3 linked regions of the Homo sapiens genome follow. The protein of the gene in region 1 interacts with the protein of each later gene in a pairwise test. Each region holds a gene or a part of one and is shown in the gene's direction. Other genes may lie near its edges.

Evidence for each region.
Region 2: the proteins of CDR2L (region 1) and ZSCAN23 interact in binary tests that used the Homo sapiens proteins (3 or more experiments, as listed by UniProt).
Region 3: the proteins of CDR2L (region 1) and TFIP11 interact in binary tests that used the Homo sapiens proteins (3 or more experiments, as listed by UniProt).

Annotation. Positions count from the first base shown.
Region 1 is NC_000017.11:74,997,537-75,004,633, forward strand, and holds part of CDR2L (cerebellar degeneration-related protein 2-like), read left to right. Parts: intron 1-1,967; coding exon 1,968-2,080; intron 2,081-3,804; coding exon 3,805-3,953; intron 3,954-4,527; coding exon 4,528-4,692; intron 4,693-5,646; coding exon 5,647-6,538; 3' UTR 6,539-7,097.
Region 2 is NC_000006.12:28,440,492-28,448,313, reverse strand, and holds the start of ZSCAN23 (zinc finger and SCAN domain-containing protein 23), read left to right. Parts: upstream 1-4,822; 5' UTR 4,823-4,915; exon of another isoform or gene 4,916-7,822. UniProt on the Homo sapiens protein: May be involved in transcriptional regulation.
Region 3 is NC_000022.11:26,495,474-26,502,473, reverse strand, and holds part of TFIP11 (tuftelin-interacting protein 11), read left to right. Parts: intron 1-421; coding exon 422-574; intron 575-2,842; coding exon 2,843-3,370; intron 3,371-3,498; coding exon 3,499-3,605; intron 3,606-5,584; coding exon 5,585-5,753; intron 5,754-6,157; coding exon 6,158-6,401; intron 6,402-7,000. UniProt on the Homo sapiens protein: Involved in pre-mRNA splicing, specifically in spliceosome disassembly during late-stage splicing events. Intron turnover seems to proceed through reactions in two lariat-intron associated complexes termed Intron Large (IL) and Intron Small (IS).

The DNA of each region.
Region 1 (7,097 bases):
ACTGATTCTGTCCTAGATACTGTCCTGGGTCCTGGGGATATTCATGAGCAAAACATAAAAATCCCTGCCCTGCCAGGTGCGGTGGCTCACGCCTGTAATACCAGCATTTTGAGGCCAAGGTAGGAGGGTCGCTTGAGGCCAGGAGTTCAATACTAGCCTGGGCAATATAACAAGACCCTGTCTCTACAAAAAAAATTTAAGAATTTTAGCCCAGGTGTGGTGGCTTATGCCTGTAATCCCAGCATTTTGGGAGGCCTGAGATCAGGAGTTCAAGACCAGCCTGGCCGACATGGTGAGACCCCCTCTCTACTAAAAATACAAAAAATTAGCCGGGCGTGGTAGTGGGTGCCTGTAATCCCGGCATAAAAAAGATTTTAGAAGTTAAAAAAAAAAAAAAAAAAGTACCGGGCACGGTGGCTCACGCCTGTAATCCCAGCACTTTGGGAGGCCGAGGCGGGTGGATCACGAGGTCAGGAGATTGAGACCATCCTGGCTAACACGGTGAAACCCCGTCTCTACTAAAAATAAAAAAAAATTAGCCAGGCATGGTGGCGGGCGCCTGTAGTCTCAGCTACCTGGGAGGCTGAGGCAGGAGAATGGTTAGCGTGAACCTGGGAGGCGGAGGTTGCAGTGAGCCAAGATCGCGCCACTGCACTCCAGCCTGAGCAAAAAGAGCAAAACTCCGTCTCAAAAAAAAAACATTGTACTATTCCTGTAGTCCCAGCAACCGATATTATAGTCCCACGCCTATTCACAGGCATGATCATATACACTGTAGCCTTGAGTTCCTGGGCTCAAGGGATCCTATCCCAGGCAGCCGTATTGCACCACCTTTCTTTTTTTTTTAATAGAGATGAGGTCTCACTATGTTGCCCTGGGAGGCTGAGGGAGGAAGATCGTTGAGCCCAGGAGTTCAAGGCTGCAGCACATATGATCACACCTGTGAATACTCACTGCACCCCAGCCTGGGTCCCATCCCTTAAAAGAAAAAAAAAACTGCCCCATGAGCTCACAGTTAGTTGGGGGAGCTGAAAAAGATAAAGGAGTAACTTGCTTGGGAAATTAGATGGTGCTAAGTGCTAAGGAGAAAGATGAAGCGGGGGAGAGACTGCAGGGCAGGGAACAGTGTGACTTTGAATCAAGTGATTGGGGAAAGATCTAGAGAAGTTGACAGGCACAGACTTGAAGGAGAAGAGGGAACAAGTCCTGGAAGTATCAGGAAAGAATATTCCGTGCGTGAGGCTGGCTTCTGGGTTGTCCACACCACTCTCTGCTGTGTTGACTTCCTGTTGTCTTCATCAAAGCTTTTTTCCGTGGTATTCTAAAATTAGGCCAGCAGTGGGGCTGGGAGGGCATCTGTGTTAGTCCCTTCCTGGCTGTGATCCGCCACACTCACTGTCAGTATTAAGGCCCAGCAGCCTGTTGATAAGCTACGCTGTCTCACCATGCGCTGGTGTGGAAACAGGGCCCAGCCAGCATGCCTCAAGGTAGATGGAATCCCCACTGGTCAGAGAAGAAGCCATGCGGACACTCCAGCTTGGCCTGGGCACAGCACTGACTCCTCACCCGCTAGTCTGGCTGTTAAGAGGAGAAGGTGCACTGCCTTCCAGCCTAGGAGGAGGACAGCATTTTGTATTTGTTCCACTGATGCAGCTTAGAACCACACCCCTGAGAATCGTGGCAAAACTTTCACAACCTGGAAAATGTTGAAAGCAACCATTCCTATTTTTGTTTGTTTTTTATTACATCTTGCACACACACACACACACACACACACACAGACACACACAAAAAGAACATTCCAGGCAGAAATAACAGTGCAAAGGCTTAGCTCCTGGCTTACCTCTCCTCCCAGGCCTGGAGGCTCCCAGTGTCTTGGTTACATTGGGGTCACCTAGAGTAGATGCTCGGAACATGAATGGGCGTCCTCTGCCTTTGTTCTCATGCTCGTGTTTCTCCTATCCTAGACTTGCACCTAGCTGCGGAGCTGGGGAAGACTCTGCTGGAGAGGAACAAGGAGCTGGAGGGGTCCCTGCAGCAGATGTACTCCACCAATGAGGAACAGGTGCAGGAGATCGAGGTGAGGGCCCTGCATGTGCTTGCCCACACCCCTCGAGGGCCCCTTGGCCTGTGTGTGCCTTTATGCAACTTAGAATAAGGTGCCAGCTTATCGGACACAGCCTTAGCCCAATAGCCTGGTACAGTTCACAACTGTGCTATCCTGTACAAGGATAGCACAGCTATCTCAGGCAGCCCTATTGCACAACTAGATTTTTTTTTTTTTTAAATAGACACCAAGTCTCACCATGTTGCCCAGGCTGGTCTCTAACTCCTGAGCTCAAGTGATCCTCCCACCTCAGCGTCCTAAAGTGCTAGGATTACAGGCATGAGCCACCAGGCCCAGCCTGAACCACCATTTTTAAGCCCCACTCAGCTGAAGACAAATACATCAAAGCAAACTTGTCCTTAGAAGGGGAGAAGGGGCTGCTGGCTCATGCTTGTAATCCCAGCACTTTGGGAGGCCAAGGTGGGTGAAATACTTGAGCCCAGGCAACATGGCGAAACCTTGTCTCTATAAAAAATACAAAAATTAGCTGGCTATGGTGGCATAAGCCTGTGGTCCCAGCTACTCAAGAGGATGAAGTGAGAGGATTGCTTGAGCCTGGAGGTTGAGGCTGCAGTGAGCCGTGATTGTGCCACTGCACTCCAGCCTAGGCAACAGAGCGAGACCCTGTCTTAAAAATAAATAAATAAAATAAATAAGATTTATTTCTTTTTTGAAATGGAGTCTCACTCTGTCACCCAGGCTGGAGTGCAGTGGCGCGATCTGGGCTCACTGCAGCTCTGCCTCCCGGGTTCACGCCATTCTCCTGCCTCAGCCTCCTGAGTAGCTGGGACTACAGGCGCCCACCACCGCACCCGGTTAATTTTTTTTGTATTTTTAGTAGAGACGAGGTTTCACTGTGTTAGCCAGGATGGTCTCCATCTCCTGACCTCGTGATCTGCCCGCCTCAGCCTCCCAAAGTGCTGAGATTACAGGTGTGAGCCATCACGCCGGGCATAAAAAAGATTTTAGAAGTTAAAAAAAAAAAAAAAGGCCGGGCACAGTGGCTCACACCTGTAATCCTAGCACTTTGAGAGGCCAAGGCGGGCAGATCACGAGGTCAGGAGATCGAGACCATCCTGGCTAACACGGTGAAACCCCATCTCTACTAAAAATGCAAAAAATTAGCCAGGCATGGTGGTGGGCACCAGTAGTCCCAGCTACTCAGGAGGCTGAGGCAGGAGAATGGTTGGCGTGAACCCAAGAGGTGGAGCTTGCAGTGAGCCGATGTCGCGCCACTGCACTCCAGCCTGGGCGAGAGAGCAAGACTCCGTCTCAAAAAAAATAAATTAATTAATTTAAAAAAAAAAGAGGCTGGCGTGGTGGTGCATGCCTATAATCCCAGCCCTTTGGGAGGCAGAGGTAGGCAGATCACTTGAGGTCAGGAGTTCAAGACCAACCTGGCCAATATAGTGAAACCCTGTCTCTACTAAAAATACCAAAATTAGCCAGGCATGGTGGCAGGCACCTATAGTTCCAGCTACTCAGGAGGCTGAAGCATGAAAATCACTTGAACCCAGGAGGCAGAGGTTGCAGTAAGCCGAAATCATGCCACTGCACTTCAGCCTGGGCAACACAGTGAGACTCTGTATCAAAAGAAAAGAAAAGAAAAAAGACAAAAAAAGAAGTAGGAGGGTCTAGGCAGAGACATTTGCCCCTGCCCAATTCTAAAAAGTTACTCAATGTCCTTCCACCCCCAGTACCTAACCAAGCAGCTGGACACGCTGCGGCACGTGAACGAGCAGCACGCCAAAGTCTATGAGCAGCTGGACCTGACAGCCCGGGACCTGGAGCTGACCAACCACAGGCTGGTGCTGGAGAGTAAGGCTGCCCAGCAGAAGATCCATGGGTGAGGGCCCGGCTGAGGGCTGGGGGGCGGGCGAGGGAGAGCCCCAGGGCTGAGTGTACACAGGGGCCCATGGACTGATGGGTGTGACTTGTGCACGTCTCCCTAGGAACCGGGGATGGGAGTGAGCTTGTCCTTGTCGATTTTGTGTGGTTTAACATTCAGGCCGCAACCTTGCTTTAAGCACCAACTATGCACCAGGCTCTTCTTTAGACACTGGGGATGCAACGATGGGGAAACAAAGACATTGTCCTGCCCTCTAATACCTCACAGCCTGGAAGAGAAGGCAGGCATGTAAATATTTTATGGCAGTGCAGGACAATAAGTGATAGAGGAGTGACAAGGAACTGAGGTGGCACAGAGGAGAAGCGATCAGCTCGCCTGAGAGGTACAAAAGAAGGGCGGGTCCTTGGGCATGCATAGAATTCCCCATCCTACCTCAGGACCAGACAGCGGCTCAAGGGTACCTGTCTGCCTCCTACCCAACGTCCCTCCATCTTCAGGGAGCCAGGGCTGCCGTGAGGCAAACTGGCCCCATCCCCTTAAAGTCCCTGTGTGTCCACCACCCCGCCCCCAGGCTGACGGAGACCATTGAGCGCCTCCAGGCTCAGGTGGAGGAGCTGCAGGCCCAGGTGGAGCAACTGAGAGGCCTGGAACAGCTGCGAGTGCTCCGGGAGAAGCGGGAACGCAGGCGTACCATCCACACCTTCCCCTGCCTCAAGGAGCTGTGCACCAGCCCCCGGTAGGTGAGAGCACTGCTTGGTGTCTCTGGGATTGCCAGCCATGGGAGGAAGGAGAGGCAGCAGGCAGCAGGGTGCAGTTGGTGCATCATCCAGGCCATCAGAGAGACTGGTCCTGTTGCTAATGACAGTCACAGCAGCTGGCGTTTACTGAGCCCTGGCTGTGTGCTGCCACTATGCTGATATAATTCTTATTGCAACACTGTTGGGGGTGTTTTATTATGCCTACTCTCCAGATGATAAAACTGAAGCCCAGAGGTTGTGTGTCTTATCCAAGGTCACCTGTTTAGTAAGAGGCTCAGCCAGCATGCTAACCCAGGAGGGGTAACCCACTGTGCTTTTCAGTTCCCATTAAATCTAACACTAGACAACCACTTAATAATGGAAAAATACATGTGTCATATGTAGTGGGTGTTTCAATAAGGGTCCTGGCAGGAAACAGTCTCTTACACAGAGTAATGGAGAAGTTAAATGAAGAAGAGGTGTGGGCAGGGGGTAGGGAAACCACAGGGACACTATAGTGCCCCAGGGTTGCAGCAGAGAGGAGCTGCCACCAGCCCTAGGCCTCAAAGCGCAAGGGGGAAGGGAGGTTACCGGCACCTGGAAGGTATGGAGAAGGCTGCCTGGTCACCATTAACCATGGAGAGCCCAAAGAAGACACACCCCACGGCCTCTGCTCCCCCCTCGGACCTCTAGCCAGTGCCTCTCATGGGCCAAGCTCAGGAGAGAACCAGGCAACCTGACAGAGGCGGTCCGTAGTGGTCAGCCTCCGGGGGCAGAGAGCAGGGGGAGAAGGGTGGAGGAGGGTGGAGAGCCAACGGAGAGGGGCAAACAATTTCAGCCCAGAGAACAAGAGAGATGTAAGCGCCCTGGCTGGGCTGCTCGGCCTTGGCCGTGCCCGTGACCACTGCCCTCTCCTCCGCCCCCACCCCGCTGCGACTCTCACTACCCGCCAGGTGCAAGGATGCTTTCCGCCTACACAGTTCCTCCCTGGAGCTGGGCCCGCGGCCCCTGGAGCAGGAGAACGAGCGGCTGCAGACCCTGGTGGGGGCGCTGCGCTCCCAGGTGAGCCAGGAGCGGCAGCGCAAGGAGCGGGCGGAGCGCGAGTACACCGCGGTGCTGCAGGAGTACTCGGAGCTGGAGCGCCAGCTGTGCGAGATGGAGGCCTGTCGCCTGCGTGTGCAGGAGCTGGAGGCCGAGCTGCTGGAGCTGCAGCAGATGAAGCAGGCCAAGACCTACCTACTGGGTCCGGACGACCACCTGGCCGAGGCCCTGCTCGCACCCCTCACGCAGGCCCCTGAGGCCGACGATCCCCAGCCCGGCCGCGGGGACGACTTGGGCGCCCAGGACGGGGTCTCCTCACCGGCAGCCTCTCCAGGCCACGTGGTGCGCAAGAGCTGCAGCGACACTGCGCTCAACGCCATCGTGGCCAAAGACCCAGCCAGCCGGCACGCGGGCAACCTCACACTGCACGCCAACAGCGTGCGCAAGCGGGGCATGTCCATCCTGCGGGAGGTGGACGAGCAGTACCACGCGCTGCTGGAGAAGTACGAGGAGCTGCTGAGCAAGTGCCGGCAGCACGGGGCCGGAGTGCGGCACGCCGGCGTGCAGACCTCGCGCCCCATCTCCCGGGACAGCTCGTGGAGGGACCTGCGCGGGGGTGAGGAGGGCCAGGGTGAGGTCAAGGCAGGAGAGAAGAGCCTGAGCCAGCACGTGGAGGCCGTGGACAAGCGGCTGGAACAGAGCCAGCCCGAGTACAAGGCGCTCTTCAAAGAGATCTTCTCCAGGATCCAGAAGACCAAGGCTGACATCAACGCCACCAAAGTCAAGACGCACAGCAGCAAGTGACCCTTCTCCGGCCTGCAGCCTCCCCCAGGGTGGAAGCCGTGGGGTCCCTCAGGCCTGGGCGGTGCAGCTTCCAGAGAGCGAGCGCCCTTTAGCGGCCTGCCACCACAGCACGCGGCCTCCTGATCCGGAAGCACGCAGCATGTTCCCTGCTGAGCGGAGGCAGCCCACCTGTCCTGCCTCCCAGGAGCCCTTGGCCACCTCGCGCCAGCCCAAAGGCGCAGCTCTGAGTTCAAAGCCAAATGTCCCCACTACCCCAGGGATCCCCCAGCTCCCCCAGCCCCTGGCTTCCTGACCCTGCGCCTCACCCTCAGACTGGTGACCAGGCTTCTGAAAGCCATTCTGGATCAGTTGGCTTTTTTTTTTTTTTTGGTTAAGTTTGTTTTTTCTAAGAGATTTGCAATGCAAGGTCTCCTTGACCCCTTGCCACAACTGGAAACACTTGAAAGGGGACCCCAGGGCCAGCTGTTTCAGGGGTTTCCTGGACCACCCACTGCTTCTCCCCAACCCTGATGCGCTGACATTCCCTTAGCACCAGCTGTCCCACCTCCAGGGTCCTGAC
Region 2 (7,822 bases), on another chromosome or scaffold:
CTTGGTGACTCCTCTTCTACTTTGAGCTTTTAAAATACTGACTGTTTATAATGAAGGAAAATAGCAACCAACTCTTTTAGACATAATAAACATGGTCAGAAGTTCTGGCCTATGACTTGAAACAAATAACCCTGAGCATTCATTTTTGAAAAACATTGTCAGATTCTTTGCTATAAGTATGAAGAGTTAATAATCTGGAAGGGAATTATAGAATTAAGCTGAACCCATGCCTGCATATTTAAAAAACAAAGCGGCTTATTTTAATGCTATCAAACTCTTCAGTATGGTATTGAATAGTCACTCATATATTCTAGCTAGGCATGTGGGTTTGTTATGATAAAAGCTGAACTTGTTCTCTCAATTTTAAGTGAAATAAATTAGTTGAGAAAAAATAATTATTTAAAATATAAGTCTTCATATTATTGTACAATATTTCTCCTTTGAGAAGATAGGATACATGATTTTCCCAAAAATCACAACTTTGAAGGAAGACTTAGTTGCTGACTTCAGTTATATCCTGGAACTGGCAAATTGTGCCCTTCCTTTGCTTCAAAAAAAGTGTAAGAAAGAGTGATAAGATCAACATTAATCATTCTTGGGTCTTTAGCAAATTCAGGATCAATGTAGAAAAACACTGGCATATCTACTTCCTCTTGGGGATTAAGCCTTTGTTCTTCAAAACAGAAGCACTGTATTTTATTGAAATACTGTCCAGCTTCAAATGGAACAACATTGTATGTAGAAATTCCAATTAGTGGTTTGTCAGCAGGATTCTTAGCTCTGTAAAACCCCAGTGCAGTGTCTCCTGGCACCACATATATTTCTGTTTGCTGAAGTCTAAAGTTCCACTGAAGACTTGCATGCACATCTGCATCAAAGTTAATTTTAATGATTCGATCCTTAACAGGCACCATGTTTTCAATCTGGTCTGAGGCATGACCTGAAACTGCTGATCCTCCAAGTCCAGTAGTCTGGCAATAGAGCCGATAAAGGGGAACGGCAGCGTAGGACGCCCCCAGCATGCCCACGGCGACAGCGGCCACGTTAAGTGAGGGTCGTCTTGTTCCGCCGCCCCCGCCGCTCCTCCTCCTGCGCGCGCCTGAAAGGGTTTGAGCTCTTAGACCGCCGCGGCGGCTGCAATGCTGGATACTGGGCTCAAAGGCTGCAGCGCTTCCATGTCTCAAGCCACCACAGTCGTCTCTGGGCACCTCCTGTCCCACTCCACTCTGGCCTAAGAAACCGCGCTACCCTCTCTGCAGCCGTGGCTGGAGACCCAGGGTGGATCCAGCGCCAGCCACAGAAAGCGACGCGCCTCCATCCCGGATGCCAGAGCCCTCCCATAACCCCCTGAACTAACAACCACCCGCCTCTCAGGGACGAGAGGTCAAATGTCGTGTTTTTTGTCTTCTTTTACTCACTATTCTGGCTCCTTTTACTATTATGTTTGTGAAATTTATCAACGTGGTTTGTAGCTGTAGTTCATTCATTTTCGTTGTTACATAGTATTCAGTTGTCTGAATAAACTTTTTTTTAAAACCCATCCTACTGTTAATGGACATTAGGGTTGTTTCCAGTTTAAAGCAATCACCAAAAAATGCTTCTAAGACATGTCTTTAGATGCAAGCACATATGCGTTTCTGGTGGCTGGGTCACAGAATACGCATACATTCAACTTTAGTAGATATGCCAGAGTTTCCCCAAAATGGTTTCACCAATGTACACTCTCATGAAAAATATGTGAAAATTCCCATTGTTCCATAATCCTTGCTGAAATTTGGCACTGTGAATCCATTTCTAGCAGGGATTTCAGCATTGCGTTTGTGATTCCTTAAGAAATATCAAAGGACCTATCATACTGGCAATATGTAAAAGCCTGAAAACATACAGATCATGAGGCTGTGTGAAGACAGGCACTCTCACACTTTGCTGTTGAGAGTACAAAATAACACAACCTCTACAAAAGTCTCTCTCTTATTGTTCATTGCAGCATTATTTGTTAAAGCAAAATATTGGAAGTAATCCAAATACCCACCCCCAAGAAACTGGTTAAAAAAATTATGGTACATCCACAGAATGAGTTATTATGCAGGTGTGAAAAAAGAGGACTACTTCAAAAACAGGACATTTCTAGGCTTTTCTGTTAGATGATAAAGCAAGGCATGAAAGAATGTATATAACATAACTTATGGGGTACAGAAGATAAATACTCATTTTTGCAAGAAAAAAGAGAAAAAGTAGGGAAGGGAGGAGGGAATGAAGAAGGAAGGAAGGAGAGGATAAATAAATAATGAAAATTGGGTATGAGTATATGTGGTAAAGGGACTGGGGATGGAAGCAGAACTCCTCTAAACATACCTTTTTATATAGTGTGGATTTTGAACTAAGTAAATGTTTTGAATTGTCAAAAAAATTAAAAAGGGATGAAAGCAAACCCTGAAATGGAATATAAACAGAAACAAATGCTCCTAACCATATATCGTTTAAAATATAACCACAGAGAAAATAATTAATTCAAATAAGGTATTTATACAGCTATACTCCCTTAATGGGATATAATTCAAAAACAAAACAAGCAAAGAAATTTTGAATTCTACATAGTAGATATGTTATTGCTAGTGATGTATTGGTATTATAATCTTGAAACTATTTTGTTTATAAGAAACTATTTTGTTTGAGTGAATTTATTTATGCTGTTGGGAGCCAGAGTTTTCACTGTGGGTGAAAAGAAAAAAAACAAATGTGCAACGGTGAAAAATGTAAAAGAATTCTGTGGAGTTGTTTTTGAACAGAAAGTATCTTATAAAATCCTCCATATATATATTATATATGTATATGGAGGATTTTATATCTGTATATAATATATATTATGTACATAATATATAGTATATAATATATTATATATGTTATATATAATACACATATATATAATATAAAATCCTCCGTATATAATATATAATATATAGGATAATATGTAATATGTATTATATATAATATATAATATATGATATATAGGATAATATATAATACGTATTATATATAATATATTATATATATAACATATTCATATATTCTAGCTCTTGTACACTGAAGGAGCCTAGAGGCAATAATATGTCCTAGTAGTGAGAGGTGAAGCTGGCTGGGCTTCCGGTTAGGGTGGGGACATGGAGAACTTTTCTGTCTAGCTAAAGGATTGTAAACACACCAATCAGCACTGTGTCTAGCTGAAGATTTGTAAATGCACCAATCAGCACTCTGTGTCTAGCTGAAGATTTGTAAATGCACCAATCAGCACTCTGTAAAAATGCACCAATCAGCACTCTGTGTCTAGCTAAAGGTTTGTAAACACACCAAGCGGCACTCTGTAAAGATGGACCAATCAGCACTCTGTAAAATGGGCCAATCAGCAGGATGTGGGCGGGGCTGAATAAGGGAATAAAAGCTGGCTACCACCCCCGCCCCAGTCAGCAGTGACAACCTGCTAGCATTGATTTTTGTGCTGTGGGATCTTTGTTCTTTCCCTTTTCACAATAAAACCTTACCACTTTTCAGTTTTTGGGTCTGCACTACTTTTAAGCATTGTAATGCTCACTACGATGGTCTGCAGCTTCAGTCCTTAAGTCAGCGAGACCACGAACCCACCAGAAGGAAGAAGCAACTGCAGGCACGCCACCCTTAGGAGTTGTAACACTCACTGCAAAGGTTTACGACCTCACTCCTGAAGTCAAGTGAGACCACGAACCCACCGGAAGGAAGAAACTCTGGACGCATCTGAACAGCAGAAGGAACAAAGTCCAGACACACCATCTTTAAGAACTGTAATGCTCACCGTGAGTATCCGCGGCTTCATTCTTGAAGTCAGAGCAGGAACCCACTGGAAGGAGCCAATTCTGGACACAGTAGACTGGCAGGAACCAATGCCAGACACAGTAGCAATGAGGTTATTCATTGCCCGAAATCCAGATCTTGGTTTCTATATACCATTTTTCACTGATGTACTGTAGCTTCATGAAGCAATGGTGATTCTAGGTTTAGGGTAGGAATAGTATAAAATGGGACTGAAATATCTTTTGTGAGAAAGTGAAGTGCACAAAAACTGTTGGGAACTTATCAAAGGACATAGAAACCTGTTTGTGGCCGGGTGCGGTGGCTCACTTCTGTAATCCCAGCCCTTTCGGAGGCCGAGGGAGCGGATCACTTGAGGGACAGGAGTTCAAGACCAGCCTCACTAAGGCATAGTGGTGTGTTCTTGTAATCCCAGATACTCAGGAGGCCGAGACAGGAGGATCACTTGAACCCGGAATGCGGAGGTTGCAGTGAGCTGAGATCGCATCCACTGCACTCCAGCCTGGAGACTTTGTCAAAAAAAGAAAAGAGAGGGAGCAGTGTGAAAGGGCTCCAACTGACCAAATTTTAAATAATTTGAGCATCAACATAATAATAACAGTAATTATTTGTAAAGGAATCCATGAGTTCATCGTGATAAAATGAGACGGCAGGGAAAAGAAAGGGTATTCTTTGCAGGAAATGGCAACTAATAAATGTAGAAATGTGCTTCAGTTTCCTCACCTGTTAAATGGAGATAATTGTACCTAACTCACAGGGTTGTTATGCGGGGTAATGAATTAATACGTGTTAAAACACTATGTTGGCCGTTATTATATTGCCGCGTGGAAGACAATGTGTCACCTAGTATCTCACTTAAGACTACAGACGGGATTCAGAGTGACGACCACAGAGGTGTGGAAACCTCCGGCCTTCCTAGAAGGAACACAGCCGGAACCGCTGTTTCGCGGAGAGCGGGCCGCGGTGACGCATTTCCGGCCTTTGTAGTTTATCATTCTTTGGGCTGCGGTTGTCAAGGATTCAGAGCAGATGTGATCTGCGCTAGGTGGCATCTCCTCTCACGGATGCCTCGGTGAGCTTCGGAGTCGGGCTACCGCTGAGGGGCTTCGGAAGGGCCAGTCTGTGCACTGCGACCTGGACTGGGTGTGGGGATTTGGCGGCAGGGTCTTCTTGGCCAGAGATGGGCCGGGCAGGTGAAGGGCAGAGGAGGTTGCTCCGCAGCCTGGAAGGGCTTTGTTAACCAAAAGTCAGCGTCGTTGCCCCTACCCCTTTCCCCCACCCTATGTCTGTTCCTGAGCTCTTCAACCTCTCTGCCCTGTACTGATGGCACTCTGAACTCTCCGTATCTGCATCTTAGGATTCAAATAGATTCGGATATGAAGAAATGTTTGTATTTTCCGATGTCTTATTCTCTACTGTGGACTTATTTTAAAGAATGAGCAGGGATAGTTTTAAACTATGCCACAGCCTTTCTTAGTCTAACTCACATAGTATAAAGGCTCTTGCTGCTATCGAATTTTTTAAAAGAATAAATAGCATCTACTATGTGCCAGCCCAGCACTGTTCTAAGCACTTTACAAATATTATCTGCTTCTCATAACTCTATGAGATAGACACTATTATTATGTAGACTACACCCCACCTCTCTGTCCCGCCCCTTTTTAAAATTAACATACAAGAAGAAAATGAAGTTAGTAACTTGCCCAAGGTCGTAGAGCGAGTAAGGGGTGTAGGCAGGATTCAAATACAGGCAATTTGGCTCCAGACTCCATTTTCTTAAAACCTTTGCTATGCTAACTCCACTCTGTTCCTATATTAGCTTTACAGCTATAACCCGGGAAGTTACTTCGCTCATTTGAATCCCGTCCTTCTTTTGTACCTCAGTAGTCCTGGGCTTCTAGTTAGGATTTGATTGGAGAGAATATATCTGAAGACGTATATCTTTCAGTGTTTCTGCAAACCTGATGAAACAGCCGTTTTATTGGTTTGTGTGCATGTTTTCACCCACTCATCTTGTTCTTTGAGCAATAGAAAAAGATTACAGTCTTGGCCCTAAGGGAAAGTAGCAACTATTAATTAAACTACCATTGTACCAAAATTGTACATTATCTTATTAAAAGATTAATTTGCATGTTTATATGCCAGGTTTTGTGCAAAAACACTTTGTATGCATTATCTCATTTAATATTCTCAACAAGTTGGCAAGGCAGTTGTTGACCTCATTTCATATATGAGCTTGAGGCTTAGAAAAATCAACTAACTTGCCCAAGATCACTGCGTTAAAATTCACAGATGGCCTGGCACTATGGTTCATGCCTGTAATCCCAGCACTTTGGGAGGCCGAGGTGGGCAGATCACGTGAGGTCGGGAGTTCGAGACCAGCCTGACCCATATGGTGAAACTCCATCCTACTAAAAATGCAAAAATGAGCCAGGAGTGGTGGTGGGTCCCTGTAATCCCAGCTACTCCGGAAGCTGAGGCAGGAGGATTGCTTGAACCTGGGAGGCAGAGGTTGCAAGTGAGCCGAGATCGCACCACTGCACTCCCGCCTGGGCAACAAAAGCAAGACTCTGTCTCAAAAAAAAAAAAAAAAAAATTAACAACCAGATCTGCCTGTGTTCTCTGCTATCTCATACTACCTTCTGCTTGTCTAAGGTAAATAAAATATATGGGCTTATATCAACTCTATGTGTGCACATGTGTATACATGTGTATATACGATTGCAAATGCATAGAAAAGGACACATTCCAGTATTTAAGACTGTTTATTTCAGGGTAATAGAACTTGGTGAAAGAATTCTATATTCCTCTCTACTTTTTGGATTTAAAAAAGGTTCTGAAGAGAAGTAATGGTACAAGATAAATTGTGACTGAGGGTGAAAGGTGGGACTCATACAGTACATGACATATGAGTGGGCAGTTGGAAGAGGGTGAGCTGAAATGGGTAAAGAAGACTTCAGAGAGGATGTGAGATTTGAATCAAGCTGCAGAGATTGGGTAAGGTTCGAATAAGGGAAGAAGGCAAGACCAAGCTCATGGCGCAGGGATGAGAAACGCCTGATTAGAATAATGAGAAGAAAAACCTGACTGGAGCTGAGAGTTTTTGCTTGTGGAATAGAGGAAACCAAGAGTGGAGCCAGACAACAGAAGCTAAAGGTCTGACTGGTTTTAAACTGTGCTTGAGAGTTTGGGAATTCATCCAATTAGTGAGGAGCCATAGATGGTGTCAGCGGAGGTGAGGGTCGTGGGATATATGATGATAAAGGCACATTTGTATTACATGCTGCTTAGTCTTCACCTACGTGCATGTCCTTGGTTAACAGCATCCTTCCATGAGGATGATGGTAGATTTGGGGGTGTTCAGCTTGCTGAGGCTCTAGGAGGAACCAACTTTAAAATGCAGATGTATTTTTTAAGGTAAGACTTATTATGCTAATTATATACCTGGCATATACATTGAGGTTGTGATCCTGAATGGAAGATTAGGAACTCTATGTTTGTGACGAGGAGGGCAGTATTACAAAAAACTGGGGAAGCCTTTTGGAGACACCAGGTTCAAAGAAGAACTCAGGTATGCTGGTGCAAGGATCTGGGTATTAAGGCCACCAGATAAAAGCAAAATCAGGTGAAGGAAAGCAAAAATGAACCCAGAGTATACAGAGAAAATAGGGAAATTTGTATTTGGGAAACTGTATAAAGATTTGAAACACCACATCCCAGAAATGAATTTTTCTGGGCAGAGCTCTAAGCTTCAGCTGCATTGCCTTTGAATAGAAAAACTTTGACTTGAAACCAAGCGGCACAGGTGGTAAATAAGAAAAAGACATTTTCGGACCCTAAAAGATTGAAAAAACAAGAAAGCATAAGTGGCTGTTTCATCCTTTGAATCCATGGTACGTTTATTGAGTAATGTGAGAGTACATATTCTGGATTTAGCTATTTGATATTTCTACCACAAAACTTTCTTACCCTAGAACCA
Region 3 (7,000 bases), on another chromosome or scaffold:
TTGAGAGTTAGGGCCTGCTTATTTATCTTCATTTTAAAGTTAGAAACAAGGTTTTGTGTGCTTAAAAAATCCTTTACATTGCATTTCTAAGTTTTACATGAGGTACATTTAAAAGTAGTATAGTGCCTGCCCATAGTAGATGCTCAATAAATGTTGTTTCGTTTATCTTTATTTTTGTTTCTCCCTCCCATCTGGTGTACCTGCCTTCTGAACCTCATTATTTGTAAGAGGGCGAATGGGGTCAAGGAGTATCATTAGATAGTTTTGGTGTCTTGCAGGTGCATCCTTTCCTTCCTTCATATAGAGCTTGTAAATAAATCTAAGACAGTGAATGGTGACATCTGCTAATGGTCTCAGCTACCTCACCTGTGGTAAAAAGTGGTTGTTCCTTGCTGCATCTGACTGTATTCTTCTGGTTCAGGAGTTTCAGAAGGAGCTGAGCCAGTGGAGGAAAGACCCAAGTGGAAGCAAGAAGAAGCCCAAATACTCTTACAAGACCGTGGAAGAGTTGAAGGCCAAGGGCAGGATTAGCAAGAAGCTCACTGCTCCCCAGAAGGAACTTTCTCAAGTCAAGGTACAGGGGCCCTTGGACACCTGGTACAGGATCCACACCCCAGAAATAATCACTGAACATGTTCGAGGGTTTTTTGGATCTTTTAGCTAGGCTTTTTTTTTTTTTTTTTTTTTTGGTACCTTGCTTTTCTCACTTATTTATAGGAGTGTAATGAATAGGAACATGCTCACATAGTATTAATATCATGTTCCTATTCATTACACTCCCATATTTAGTAATAGTTACCAAGTTCCTTCTCTGCTAGGCACTCTTCACGGCACTACACTGGTAAACCAAATGATGTTCCTGTGTTTCTGGAGCTTACATCAGTGAATTTAATAACATTCTTGTTATTAAAAACTCAGTGCAAAGTGTTTATAATGAGCACGTAATTCCAGAGAGTGGCTGTGCTGTATTATTTGATCCTACCTCCGTTGTTAGACATTTAGCTTTTATCTGGTTTAGTTTGGGTTTTTGGCTGGTTAGTTTGTATATAAAACTTTGTCTTTGTTTCAGACATTTTTTAAGGATAGACATGTACATGTGCAATCACCATGTTGAATACAAAAGTACTTAAGGCATTTAAATACTCAGAAGGTTGTATTAACTCTCTCTGACCAGGAGGGCAGGAGAGAGTCCCCAGGGCTCCTTAGCCAGCATTGAGTATTTTCTTTTTTTAAGATAGATTAAATTTTCAGCCACTGTTACGTCCATGTAGTGTATTAAGTTTTCCATTACTTGGCTGGGGATGGTGGCTCACGCCTGTAATCCCAGCACTTTGGGAGGCCTAGGCGGGCAGATCACAAGGTCAGGAGATCGAGACCGTCCTGTAACATGGTGAAACCCCGTCTCTACTAAAAATACAAAAAATTAGCCGGATGTGATGGTGGGCGCCTGTAGTCCCAGCTACTCGGGAGGCTGAGGCAGGAGAATGGCATTTACTCAGGAGGCGGAGCTTGCAGTGAGCGGAAATCGTGCCACTGCACTCCAGCCTGGGGGACAGAGCGAGACTCCGTCTCAAAAAAAAAAAAAAAAAAAAAAAGTTTTCCGTTACTTTTCCAAGTAGTCAAAGAACAGTGGTGACAGTTGCCTGTTGTCATTTGCTGTAGGATATGTAGTGTGTCATAGACCTCAAAGAAAGCCTTTAGTGGGGTTCTCAAACGTGCTGTTATCTGGACGACCTGATAAGAAATAAGAGTGTCTAGGTGCCTCCCAGGAATTGAGTCTAGACTGAACCTCAGGACTCTTTTTTTTTTTTTCCTCCAGTGAGTCTAAAGCTGGTGGTTCATGGATCACACTCTTACTTAAAAAGTGGTGATGAATCATTCTGTTTCAGAAGTGTAGTCCGTATTCACATTTCCTGTTTTCCTAAAATATTGGAATTAGCTCATTGTCTAGGTTGCCTTTGTTCAGTTAGCCTTTTGTATATTTTATTTTGTTTTAAAATTAAAAGGCTGGGCGCAGTGGCTCATGCCTGTAATCCCAGCATTTTGGGAGGCTGAGGCAGGCGGATCACAAGGTCAGGAGATTGAGACCTTCCTGGCTAACACAGTGAAACCCCATCCCTACTAAAAATACAAAAAATTAGCCAAGTGTAGTGACGGGCGCCTGTAGTCCCAGCTACTTGGGAGGCTGAGGCAGGAGAATGGCTTAAACCCAGGAGGCGGAGCTTGCAGTGAGCTGAGATCGTGCCACTGCATTCCAGCCTGGGCAACAGAGCGAGATTCTGTCTCAAAATAAATAAATAAATTAAATTTAAAAAAACTTTGTTATTACACAGCAGTGTGTAGTACATTTTAGAAAATTAGGAAATAGGCAAAAATGTAGAAAATATTTTCCATCCTTCCAAGATTACCAAATGTTAACATCTTGTTATACATCCTAGATCTTTTTCTATGCTTATGTGCATTTTTTAAATCAAAATGTGATATTCTGATTGTATGTTACCTTCTTTGATCAGTACAGCTTCTACCTTTCCATTAAAATAAATTTTCACATCTACTAATACTCAGTCCCTATTTAAATTTCATGTTTCCCTAAAAAGTCTTCTCCATCTGGCTTGTTCACAGTGATCCAACCTAGAACTGCTTGCTGCATCTGATTTTGTCCCTGGAGTCTCCTTTAGGCTAGGACAGTATGGTTCCCACTTTACAACACTGCCCTTCTCCAGCTCTGTTGAATAATGTGGTTTCTACACACTTCCCCTGTCATGGGGCCTTCCCCTGGGCTTAGCTGTGTGTTTAACAGGGCTGCAGCGGTGTTAACCTTCATCCCTCTATGTTTTCCAAGGTCATAGACATGACAGGCCGGGAGCAGAAGGTCTACTACAGCTACAGTCAGATCAGCCACAAGCACAACGTTCCCGATGATGGGCTGCCGCTACAGTCCCAACAGCTGCCACAGTCTGGCAAAGAGGCCAAGGCCCCCGGCTTCGCGCTGCCCGAGCTGGAGCACAACCTGCAGCTGCTCATCGACCTCACGGAGCAGGAGATCATCCAGAATGACCGGCAGCTACAGTATGAGCGGGACATGGTGGTCAACCTCTTCCACGAGCTGGAGAAGATGACCGAGGTCCTGGACCACGAGGAGCGGGTCATCTCGAACCTCAGCAAGGTCCTGGAGATGGTGGAGGAGTGCGAGCGGCGGATGCAGCCCGACTGCAGCAACCCCCTCACCCTGGACGAGTGTGCCCGCATCTTCGAAACCCTGCAGGACAAGTACTATGAGGAGTACAGGATGTCCGACCGTGTGGACCTTGCTGTGGCCATCGTCTATCCACTCATGAAGGAGTACTTCAAGGAGTGGGATCCCCTCAAAGTGAGTTGCTGGGAAAATCAACCTATCCCTGCCTCTCGGTTGGGCTTACCCTTGCTTGATGAGTTGGTTCAATGGGCAGGGAGGGCTGGAGAGCCCGCTGCCCCTCAACTGCTCACCTTTCTCCTCAGGACTGCACTTATGGCACCGAGATCATCTCTAAGTGGAAAAGCCTCCTAGAGAATGACCAGCTCTTGTCCCATGGCGGACAGGACCTCTCAGCAGATGCCTTTCACAGGTACACCACAGAGCAGGGCTCTGTACCCCAGCTCCTTTCTCCTGGGGGGTTGGGAAGGATTGCTGAAGGTGGGGGAAGGCAGCAGTGCTGGCCTTGATTAATTCTCTGCTCATGCTGACAGTGCTTTAGGAATTTAAATTCATTTGGCTATGAATTTTTTTTTTTTAATTTTTTTGAAATGTTTTATTTCCATAGGGTTTGGGGAACAGGTAGTATTTGGTTACATGAGTAAGTTCTTTAGTGGTGATTTGTGAGATTTTGGTGTACCCATCTCCTGAGAAGTATACATTGAATCCAATTTGTAGTCTTTTTTTTTTTTTTTTTTTTGAGATGGAGTCTCACTCTGTCACCAGGCTGGAGTGCAGTGGCGTGATCGCAGCTCACTGCAACCGCCAACTGCCTGGTTCAAGCGATTCTCCTGCCTCAGCCTCCCAAGTAGCTGGGATCACAGGCACACGCCACCACGCCCAGCTAATTTTTGTATTTTTAGTAGAGACAGGGTTTCACCATGTTGGCCAGAATGATCTCAATCTCCTGACCTCGTGATCCACCCGCCTTGGCCTCCAAAAAAATGCTGGGATTCCAGGCGTGAGCCACCGTGCCTGGTTCAATTTGTAGTCTTTTATCCCTCACCCCCTTCCCATCCTTTCCCCGAGTCCCCAAAGTCCATTGTGTCATTCTTATGCCTTTGCATCCTCATAACTTAGCTTCCACTTATAAGTGAGAACATAAGATGTTTGGTTTTCCATTCTTGAGTTACTTCACTTAGAATAATAGTCTCCAATTCCAACCAACTTGCTGCGAATGCCATTATTTCATTCCTTTTTATGGCTGAGTCATATTCCATTATATTTATACCACAGTTTCTTTATCCACTTGTTGATTGGTGGGCATTTGGGTTGGTTCCACATATTTGCAACTGCGAATTGTGCTGCTGTAAATTTGTGTGAGCAAGTATCTTTCTCGTATATGACTTTTTTTTTTTTTTTTTTTTGAGATGAAGTCTTGCTTTGTCGCCAGGCTGGAGTGCAGTGGCACGATCTCGGCTCACTGCAACCTCTGCCTCCCGGGTTCAAGCGATTCTCCTGCCTCAGCCTCTCGAGTAGCTGGGACTACAGGCGCTCGCCACCATGCCCAGCTAATTTTTGTATTTTTAGTAGAGACAGGGTTTCACCATGTTGGCCAGGATGGTCTCGATCTCTTGACCTCGTGATCCGCCTGCCTTGGCCTCCCAGAGTGCTGGAATTACAGGCGTGAGCCTCCGTGCCCAGCCATGACTTCTTTTCCTCTGGGTAGATACCCAGTAGTGGGATTGCTGGATCAAATGGTAGTTGTACTTTTAGTTCTCTAAGGAATCTCCACACTGTTTTCCATAGTGGTTGTACAATTACATTTGGCCATGAATTCAGCTGACACTTGTCAAATGTCTGTTGCGTATCATGCTTGTGCTAGGTGCTGGGCTTACCCTAGGAGCACAGCAGACAGCCTCTGTCTACAGTACAGCAAAAAAAGCAGATGGGAAGTAAGGTAGTGAACAAATAAAGGCAGGATGCACACCAGGTACAGCGATAGAGAACTGCAGGAGCAACCTACTTGGAACGGGGGTTGGCACAGAGGTCTTAGGGGAGGTGACGTTGAAATTGTGATAAGAGGGTGAGAGGCATCAGCTCATGAATAGAAGCCTATAGGTGGGAAAGCACTTGATACCTGGGAAGAGGCCCTTGTGACCCTAAAGCAGCTCTGCCAGGTGGATGGGCACTACCTAGGAGACTGAGGCCTCAGATTGAGAGGAGAGTCAAGAGAACAAGGAAGAGGCAGGCTCAGTCTGGCCAGTATGGTGACTGGCCTGATGGTTTCCTCTGATTGGATTTCCATGCTGTTGCATTTTTATTCCTGATTCTAGAGAGGCAGGTGGTGGTGGTGTACTTTGAAACCAGTCAGTGTAATTAACCAGCCTGTCCTCTGCCTTTCTCCCATAGGTTGATATGGGAAGTCTGGATGCCTTTTGTTCGAAATATTGTCACCCAGTGGCAGCCAAGGAACTGTGACCCGATGGTGGACTTTTTGGATAGTTGGGTGCACATTATTCCTGTGTGGATCTTAGATAACATACTGGACCAACTCATCTTCCCCAAGCTGCAAAAGGAGGTGGGATGAGAGTCATGGGAAACAGTCGTCATCACTAATCACAGGGACTTGTTCAGTCTGTGGCTTCATTATCTCAGTGCTGTTAAAACGCCTGGAATTAACGGAATTTGTCAACACAACTATTGACCTATAGTGTTAATTCCAGCCTTTTTCTCAGCACTTTTTCCCCCAAGCCACCCTCAGGAGGGAATTCATTTTCTTGATTTTGTCACTAAAATTAGAATTGTGCTGTTTCTGAGATGTAATCAAATGGATGGGCATATTTGTTTGGCAATGTACAAAGGACTGTGGGCCTCAGAGAGCACAGGGCCTCCTCCAGGGGCAGCTCTTGCCTTTAGCCACACAGGGGTGTTATGTGACTGCCCCACAGGCGACATGAACTGTTTCTCCTCCCCACTTCGCAGGTGGAAAACTGGAACCCGCTCACAGACACTGTTCCCATCCACTCTTGGATCCACCCATGGCTGCCCCTTATGCAGGCACGGCTGGAGCCACTCTATTCCCCCATCCGTAGTAAGCTGTCCAGCGCCCTGCAGAAGTGGCACCCCAGCGACTCCTCTGCCAAGCTCATCCTCCAGCCCTGGAAGGATGTCTTCACTCCTGGCTCCTGGGAAGCATTCATGGTCAAAAACATAGTGCCCAAGCTGGGTAAGGATAAGGGGAAATGCATTCCAAGCCCAGCAGCTTTGGTGCCCTGGTTTCTGTGGTTAGCAGTGATGATTTAAAGCATCGCCTTTATGTTCATGAAAGTGCTTAGTACACAATATTCCTTGCTGTGAAAAAGGTAACATTTTGTTCAGAGGCTGAACATAAATGTAACTTGGGTCCTTTCCGCTGTTTATTTACAACAGTCACTAATAGTCGACAGTGACAATATCGGACTCTGTGCCTTGTGGTTTTCCCGATTGGTTTTGGCTTCTGGTAATAGGACAGCCATTGGAGTTCTAAAATTTTTGTGGTATTTTACTCTAAATTATTAGGGAGTTATTTCCAGGTTAGCAAAAAAAATATATATACATACACACACACACACACACATATATGTATATATATACACACATGCATATACATGTATATATACACATGTATATACACATATATGTATATACACACATATATATGTATATATGTATACACACACACACATATATATATGTGTATATATATACACATATATATTTTAAGAATCGCTATGTCGGGAGCTTAAATTTGACCTTTAAAAGCAGATTACAGCCTGAGCAACATGG